Homo sapiens: one gene and its partner. The protein of the gene in region 1 purifies or fractionates together with the protein of each later gene. This does not show direct contact. Each region holds a gene or a part of one and is shown in the gene's direction. Other genes may lie near its edges. The genes, in order: LTA4H and ENOSF1.

Evidence for each region.
Region 2: the proteins of LTA4H (region 1) and ENOSF1 fractionate together in Homo sapiens (co-fractionation; one large-scale study listed by BioGRID). This does not show direct contact.

What each region holds. Positions count from the first base shown.
Region 1 is NC_000012.12:96,015,088-96,018,587, reverse strand, and holds part of LTA4H (leukotriene A-4 hydrolase), read left to right. Parts: intron 1-1,007; coding exon 1,008-1,031; intron 1,032-1,473; coding exon 1,474-1,544; intron 1,545-2,893; coding exon 2,894-3,005; intron 3,006-3,500. UniProt on the Homo sapiens protein: Bifunctional zinc metalloenzyme that comprises both epoxide hydrolase (EH) and aminopeptidase activities. Acts as an epoxide hydrolase to catalyze the conversion of LTA4 to the pro-inflammatory mediator leukotriene B4 (LTB4).
Region 2 is NC_000018.10:710,280-714,401, reverse strand, and holds the start of ENOSF1 (mitochondrial enolase superfamily member 1), read left to right. Parts: upstream 1-1,771; 5' UTR 1,772-1,814; coding exon 1,815-1,898; coding exon of another isoform or gene 1,899-2,042; intron 2,043-4,122. UniProt on the Homo sapiens protein: Plays a role in the catabolism of L-fucose, a sugar that is part of the carbohydrates that are attached to cellular glycoproteins.

The sequences.
Region 1 (3,500 bases):
TTGTGGTTATCACAATCTCATTTTTTTTTTGTTGTTTTTTGAGACACAGGCTTGCTCTGTTGCCCAGGTTGGAGTGCAGTGGCACAATCTCAGCTCACTGCAACCTCTGCCCCCGGGTTCAAGCGATTCTCCTGCCTCAGCCTCTTGAGTAGCTGGGACTATAGGTGCACACCACCATGCCCAGCTAATTTTTGTAATTTTAGTAGAGATGGGGTTTCACTATATTGGCCAGGGTAGTCTCGATCCTCTGACCTCGTGATCCACCTGCCTTGGCCTCCCAAAGTGCTGGGATTACAGGCATGAACCACCCCACCAGGCCTCCATCTTGTTTTTGAAAGGAAAATAATCAGGCCATTTGGAGAAGGAGAATATTATGTTCACGGTATTTGGGGAGTTGGGCATGGGGGTGCTGTGTAACAACAATTCATTGATAAATTATGTATCCAGACAATCAGACTATACCAATTACACTTGGTGTGTAGGTACAATTAAAAAAAAAATCAGTACACCATGTACAGGAAAGGATTAGGGCCATAGAACGCTGCTATGTTTAATATGCCTGTGAGCTACTTTAAATTCTTCTTAGAACCAAAATGAGTGATGGATTAGCAATAAAATAAATAAAATACAGCACAGGACACATAGGACACTCTAAAGTTTTATTAAATATATTTTGGGTAATAGGAGAGAAAGAAAGTGATGGGTAAATAAGAGCAGATATAAAAATGGAAGTAGAAGAAATGTTTCATGGAAGTTAGACACAAATAGACTGGCTTTCATTGTATTGCAAAAATTCCCTAGAATTAGGGCAAGAAAGAATGATGCTAATTTTTAGTTCTGTATTTTTTTTGTTTTTTCAATTAAGGTCTCTTTTACCTTCTTTGAAGTGCTGTAGTAGAAATACAGTGGATCACCAGTGCCAGTATGCTAAGTATTTAGGTAGGCAGTCTTTTAGATAGTCTGTAATTCGATTACTAAAATACTAAGGTAATTTTCTTTTTTTGTAGGCAGGCGACAAGTCACTCTCCAATGTAAGTTAAACTTTTTCATTATGGCCTTACCTTCAAGAAGTATTACGTCAACTGATTTTAAAATATCCCTTGTATTTTTATGTTAAAGATATGGTTATAATGGACAATTTGGGGACTCTTCTCACATTATTAACAATTAGATGTAATAGATTTAAGGAAATTTTATGGTTTGATCTCTTCATATATTTATGAAATATTTTTAATGCAGTGATATATCTATTTAATATTTTCTAAGTAATTTTTGTTTTCTAATTACTTTATGCCATATTTGTGTGTGTGTGTATGTCTTTGGTTAAATTAAAGATTTTGCTGAACTGAGTAACTCCCTGAATATCTCAGCTAATATTTTTTAAAAATTGAATAACATGGAGTGTTTACAGTAGAATGGGTTATTTTAGGTTAAGATAATCAGTCTTACTATTAATCACACTGTTTTCTTTAGGTCATTGCACATGAAATATCTCATAGCTGGACAGGGAATCTAGTGACCAACAAAACTTGGGATCACTTTTGGTAAGATTTTTGTTATTATTTCTTTATTGGTTCATGTTGCTGATTTTTTTTTCCCTGCCTCCTACCACTCTGAATTGTTTTGTGTGTATCTCTTGTTTTTCTTTGTTATCATCTCTTAGGTAGGCAAGGATTTTTTTTTTTTTTGACATGGAGTCTCACTCTGTCACTCAGGCTAGAGTGCAGTGGTGCGATCTAGCTCACTGCAAGCTCTGCCTCCCAGGTTCAAGTGATTCTTCTGTCTCAGCCTCCCGAGTAGCTGGGATTACAGGCATGCGCCACCACGCCCAGCTAATTTTTTGTATTTTAGTAGAGATGGGGTTTCACCGTGTTGCCCAGGCTGGTCTCGAACTCCTGAGCTCAGGCAATCCACCCACCTTGGCCTCCCAAAGTGCTAGGATTACAGGTGTGAGCCACCATGCCCAGCTATTTTTTTTTTTTAATTGGAGACAAGGTCTCACTCTGTGGCCCAGGCTGTAGTGCAGTGGTGCAATCTCTGCTAACTGCAACTCCAGGGTTGCAATCCTCCCTCCTCAGCCTCCAAAGTGGCTGAGACTAAAGGCGCATGCCACTATGCCTGGCTAATTTTTGTATTTTTTATAGAGATGGGATTTCACCATGTCGCCCAGACTGGTCTCAAACTCCTGAGCTCAAGTGATCCGCCCACCTCGGCCTCCCAAAGTGCTGAGATTATAGGCATAAGCCGCCACGCCCAGCCAACAAGGATTTTTTTTTTTTTTTTTTTTTTGAGATGGAGTCTCACTCTGTCGCCCAGGCTGGTGTGCAGTAGTGTGATCTCTCTGCCTCTCAGTTCAAGCAATTCTTGTGCCTTAGCCTCCCGAGTATCTGGGACTACAGGTGCACGCCACCATGCTCAGCTCATTTTTGTATTTTTAGTAGAGACGGGGTTTCACCATGTTGGCCAGGCTGGTCTTGAACTCCTGACCTCAGATAATTCTCCCGCCTCGGCCTCCCAAAGTGCTAGGATTACAGGCGTGGGCCACCATGCCCGGCCAACAAGGATAGTTCTTAAAAATTCTGTAACACTTATTACAGCGTTAGGAGTGTTAGGTTCAGTCTAGGTGTTAAGTTTAATTCCTGATATACTCCCACTTTTAACATAGGGACATGCAAGAGCAGAAGCAGGGCTTAACTTTCCCTGCTGCCATCTGCTGGGCTGGGCTTCCCATTGCTCTGGATTGACTGCCTGGGAGCCAGAGTCGGCTTAGACTGTAGTGGTCATGCCTTACAACTGCTTTCCTCTGTAGAAAAGCCAAAAAGAAAATATCTTGATTGAAATGTCTTTTCTTCTCAGCTGTGTCCGTGTTTTTATTAAAATATTTTTTTTTCAGGTTAAATGAGGGACATACTGTGTACTTGGAACGCCACATTTGCGGACGATTGTTTGGTGAAAAGTTCAGACATTTTAATGCTCTGGGAGGATGGGGAGAACTACAGAATTCGGTAAAGGAGTCAAAGTTTTAAAAACCTTCATCCAAAGTTGTATAGGTGTTAAAAACTGAGTTTTTATAAAAGCGTCTTTACTGTGTAGCAACCAAAAAGTCATTTTTACAAGTGTGGAAAGTGAAGTCAATGCTGGTATAACACTGTGTTGATCCACACTGTTCACTGTTCTATGTAAGGTAGTTTTGATGACCTGGTCTAAATAGGGAGCTGTGGGACCTCACTGGGTCTTTGCTATTAATATAGCTGTTTACTATGTTTGCATCTTATTTGGTATGTCATTTTTAAGTGTTGTCTCCTGAAAGCCAAATTTGCTGACCAGGCATTAAATCATTTTTCTAGTCTTTTTATAAGAATAAAGCCTGTATTATTGAGCAAGAAACAACAGAGAATATTACTTAAGTAAGCATTCTATTAATAGACTTCCAGAAGTTTATGCCAACATATCCTAGTGTTCCAGTCTCCAAGTTTTAGATTCCCCTAAAGTTACACCAC
Region 2 (4,122 bases), on another chromosome or scaffold:
CTGCAGTACTATGTTGAATAGAAGTGGTGGAAGCAGACATCCTTTCCTTGTTCCAAATCTTAAGGAGAAAGCATCAATCATTCACCATAAAGTCAGTTTGTGGCTGTTTCTATCTTCTGAAATAGATTATAGAGAATTGTTGTAATTTCTTCCTTAAATGTTTGGTGTAAAATTCACCAGTGAAACCATGGACCTGGTGCTTTTTGTTTTTGGAAGGCTATTATTTATTCAAGTTATTTAATAGATATAGGCCTATTCAGATTGTCCATTTCTTCTCGTGTGAGTTTTGGCAGATTGTGTCTTTCAAGGAATTGGTTTATTTCATCCAGGTTATCAAATTTGTGGACATAGAATTCATAGTATTCCTTTATTATCATTTTAATGTCCGTCGGATCTGTAGTAATGTTCCTTATTTCACTTTTGATATTAGTTATTTGCGTTCTCTTTTCTTGCCTGGTTAGAGGCTTATTGATTTTATCAATGTTTTCAAAGAACCAGCTTTTGTTTTCATTGATTTTTCTTTGTTGCTTTCCTGTTTTCAATTTCACAGGTTTCTGCTTTAATTTTTATTATTTCTTCTCTTCTGCTTACTTTGGATTTTCTTTTTATTTCTTTTTATTTATTTATTTTTGAGACACAGTCTCACTCTGTCGCCCAGGCTGGAGTGCAGTGGTGCGATCTCGGCTCACTGCAACCTCCGCCTCCTGGGTTGAAGCGATTCTCCTGCCTCAGCCTCCCGAGTAGCTGGGACTGCAGGCGCCCGCCACCACGCCCGGCTAATTTTTTGTATTTTTAGTAGAGACGGGGTTTCACCGTGTTAGCCAGGATGGTCTCGATCTCCTGACTCGCCATCTGCCCGCCTTGGCCTCCCAAACTGCTGGGATTACAGGCGTGAGCCGCCCAGCATCTTTTTTTTTTTTTTTTTTTTTTTGAGTCGGAGTCTTGCTCTGTCGCCCGGGCTGCAGTGCAGTGGCGCGATCTCAGTTCACTGCAAGCTCCACCTCCCGGGTTCAGGCAGTTCTGCCTCAGCCTCCCGAGTAGCCGGGACTACGGGCGCGCACCACCACGCCCTGCTAATTTTTGTTTTTAGTAGAGGCGGGATTTCGCCGTATTGGCCAGGCTGATTTCAAACGCCTGACCTCAGGTGATCCGCCCGCCTCGGCCTCCCGAAGTGCTGGGATTACAGGCTGAGGCACGGTACGGGGACCTCATCTGCATCAGTACGGGTGTAATCAATGATGACCTGCCTCTTAATTTATCAGGTGGCAAACTGAGGCTGTGGGCACTGAAAGAGACCTAGCATTTTCTAGGGCACCGCTCTCCTGGGTACGCTGGCGACAACCAGCGGCCTCGGCTTGGGAGCTGAGCCACTGGCCGGAATCTGCCGCTGAGCGAATGCACTCGCTCAGACCCGACTTCTCCCTCTAGGGCGCGGCTCCCGGGCAGGTCCCTTCACGAGTCTTCCATCCGAGCAGAGCAGGGTCCCGCGGAGGCGCCGACCGGGCGCGAGGCCTCCTGCCTGCCCAGGTTCCCCGGCGACCCTGAGCGAACCCTCTCGGGGTCAGCTCCGTCTAGGCTGAGAAGGGAACGGCGGAAGGCGGAGTGCGCCCCCGGGAGCCCGGAGCTGGGACTGCAGCTCCCATGGGGCCAAGTTCACGGGGTGCGGCCGCGCGGCCAATGAGCGCCCTCTATGCCCTGACGGTGCCCCGCCTCGCGGCGCTGCCGCGCTCCCGCCCTCCCGCCCTCCCGCCGCGCGCTCGGGATCCCGACCAGTCCTGACCGCACGGGGGCCGCGGCCACGGGGCGCAGGGGCCATGGTGCGCGGCAGGATCTCCCGGCTCTCGGTCCGGGACGTGCGCTTCCCCACGTCGCTTGGGGGCCACGGCGCGGACGCCATGGTAAGCGCGGACGCCATGGTAAGCGCGGACGCCATGGTAAGCGCGGACGCCATGGTAAGCGCGGACGCCATGGTAAGCGCGGACGCCATGGTAAGCGCGGACGCCATGGTAAGCGCGGACGCCATGGTAAGCGCGGACGCCATGGTACGCGCGGCTTGCGGCCCGGGTCCCTCCCGCCCCGCCGACTGCAGCTCTGCGGGCCCCGGGCAGCTTCCCGACTTCGAACCCATTGCTTCTGTAAAGTGGGAGGCGCGCCTGGGGGAGACACTCGCTTTTCATGCCTTGGAGCAATTGTATAAGTATCCAGAAACTTTCCACTCTCCTGGGTTTTTTCTTTGCTGGAGTTTAGAATATCCTGGTTTTACTTTTACGACTCACATTTTGCTGGAAATGGTAGAATGCATAATAGGCAATAGCAGCAAAATGATTTTGTTGGGTTCCCGCCAGTGGAAACCCTAGAGCACAGCGCTCGCTGGCTTCCTCTGTACCCTGAACGCGACGGGGTTGGCGCTGAGGGAGAACGGGAAGCCCGGGGCTGGGAGTTTTGAGTGGTGATCCCGCTTCCACAACTTGCTGTGTGACTTGGAGAAGTTCCAGACCTCTCTGGGTCTCTTGGACCCGTCTGTGTAATGAAGGTGTCACAGTCGGGTTGAGAAACCAAGCGCGTGCTAACTGCGTCACATGAGAGGGCGCTCTCGTGAAATTACCCGCAAACACGCTTAGAAAGGACTGATGCAAATGTCAGTTCGTCTTAAGAGATGTAATAAAGTAAGGGCAGGAACTCTGACTCCTACCTAAATATTGAAGGTCTTTTTTGCTTACTGAGGGTGTTAGAATGTCAGGCCTTCCCTCCCCTGCCCCCGTCTAGAGCGGTGTTTCCCAAATACAGTGGGTTCTGTGCAGGGTTTTCAGGGAGCCTGTTCCCCACTGGGTCCTCACTGCCCCTCGTAGTCCACTGATGAGATTGGCCGCGCTAGAAAAGCAGAGTTGTATGGGTATGTAGTGAATGTGTGAAAGTATGCTGGGAAGTGAGGAACGGCAATGTTAGGAAAATGGTTACCAGTAGGGAGGGAAGGAAATGGGGTCACGGAGGGGACCACGAGGTCTCTAATTCCCATTGTAATGTTTTACTTCCTAAATTGGGTGGATGGCAAGCTGGTGTCCATTACATTATCTATACTCTTTTTGTACCTGAAATGTTTTATAAAAATAGATCTCTCGTTAAAGTTATTAAATGCAAAACAATGTCCTTTTTGAGATTAAGTTCATCCTGCATTTTTAAATTTTTATTTTATTCTATTTTATGTTTTAAATTTATTTATTTATTTATTTTGAGGCAGGGTCTCTTATCTGTTGCCCAAGCTGGAGTGCAGTGGTACTATCATGGCTCACAGCAGCCTTGACCTCCCTGACTCAACCAATCCTCCCACCTCAGCCTCCCAAGTAGCTGGGACTACAGGTGTGCACCATGATGCCCAGCTACTTTCTGTATTTTTTGTAGAGACAGGGCCCAGGCTGTCATCCTCTTTAAAATCTTCATGTTTCCTTTCTTACATGATGTTGGTAAATAACTTAAACACCCAGCAGGCAATCCTTTATGGAACTCAAAATAAATGTTGGAAATTTTACTGGCTTATAGAATCCAAACACTCGATCTCATGCAACTGCCTTTGCCTCTGTGAAGCTTTAGCAGCTGTGGCTAAGTCACACAATCTTTCTAAGCCTAGGTTTCTCATCTGTAAAATGGGTATAATAATATTCACTTTATACATGTAAATGAGATACCTGTAAAGAGCCTGGCTCAGAGAAGGCCGTCAGTAAAGTTGGCTATAGGCCAGGCATGAGGGCTCACACCTCTAATCCTAAGTGGAGGCCTAGGCAGGGGGATCACTTGAGCCCAGGAATTCAATTACATGAGCTATGATCATGCCACTGCATTCCAGCCTGGGCACTGGATGACACAGTGAGACCCTGTTTCTAAAGAAAAAAGGAGGGGTGGCTGTAATTACTATTCACTCTGAGGAAACTGAAGCAGAAGGAATCCCTAATCTAGACTTGACTTTGAATTTGTGAAATGTTAAGACAGCCTGGTTTGGCTGAGCGTGGTGGTTCAAGCCTATAATCCCAGCACTTTGGAAGGCCAAGGCAGGTGGATCGCTTGAGCCCAGGAGTTCGAGACCAGCCTGAGCAACATAGTGAGACCTCGTCTCAACAAAAAAATACA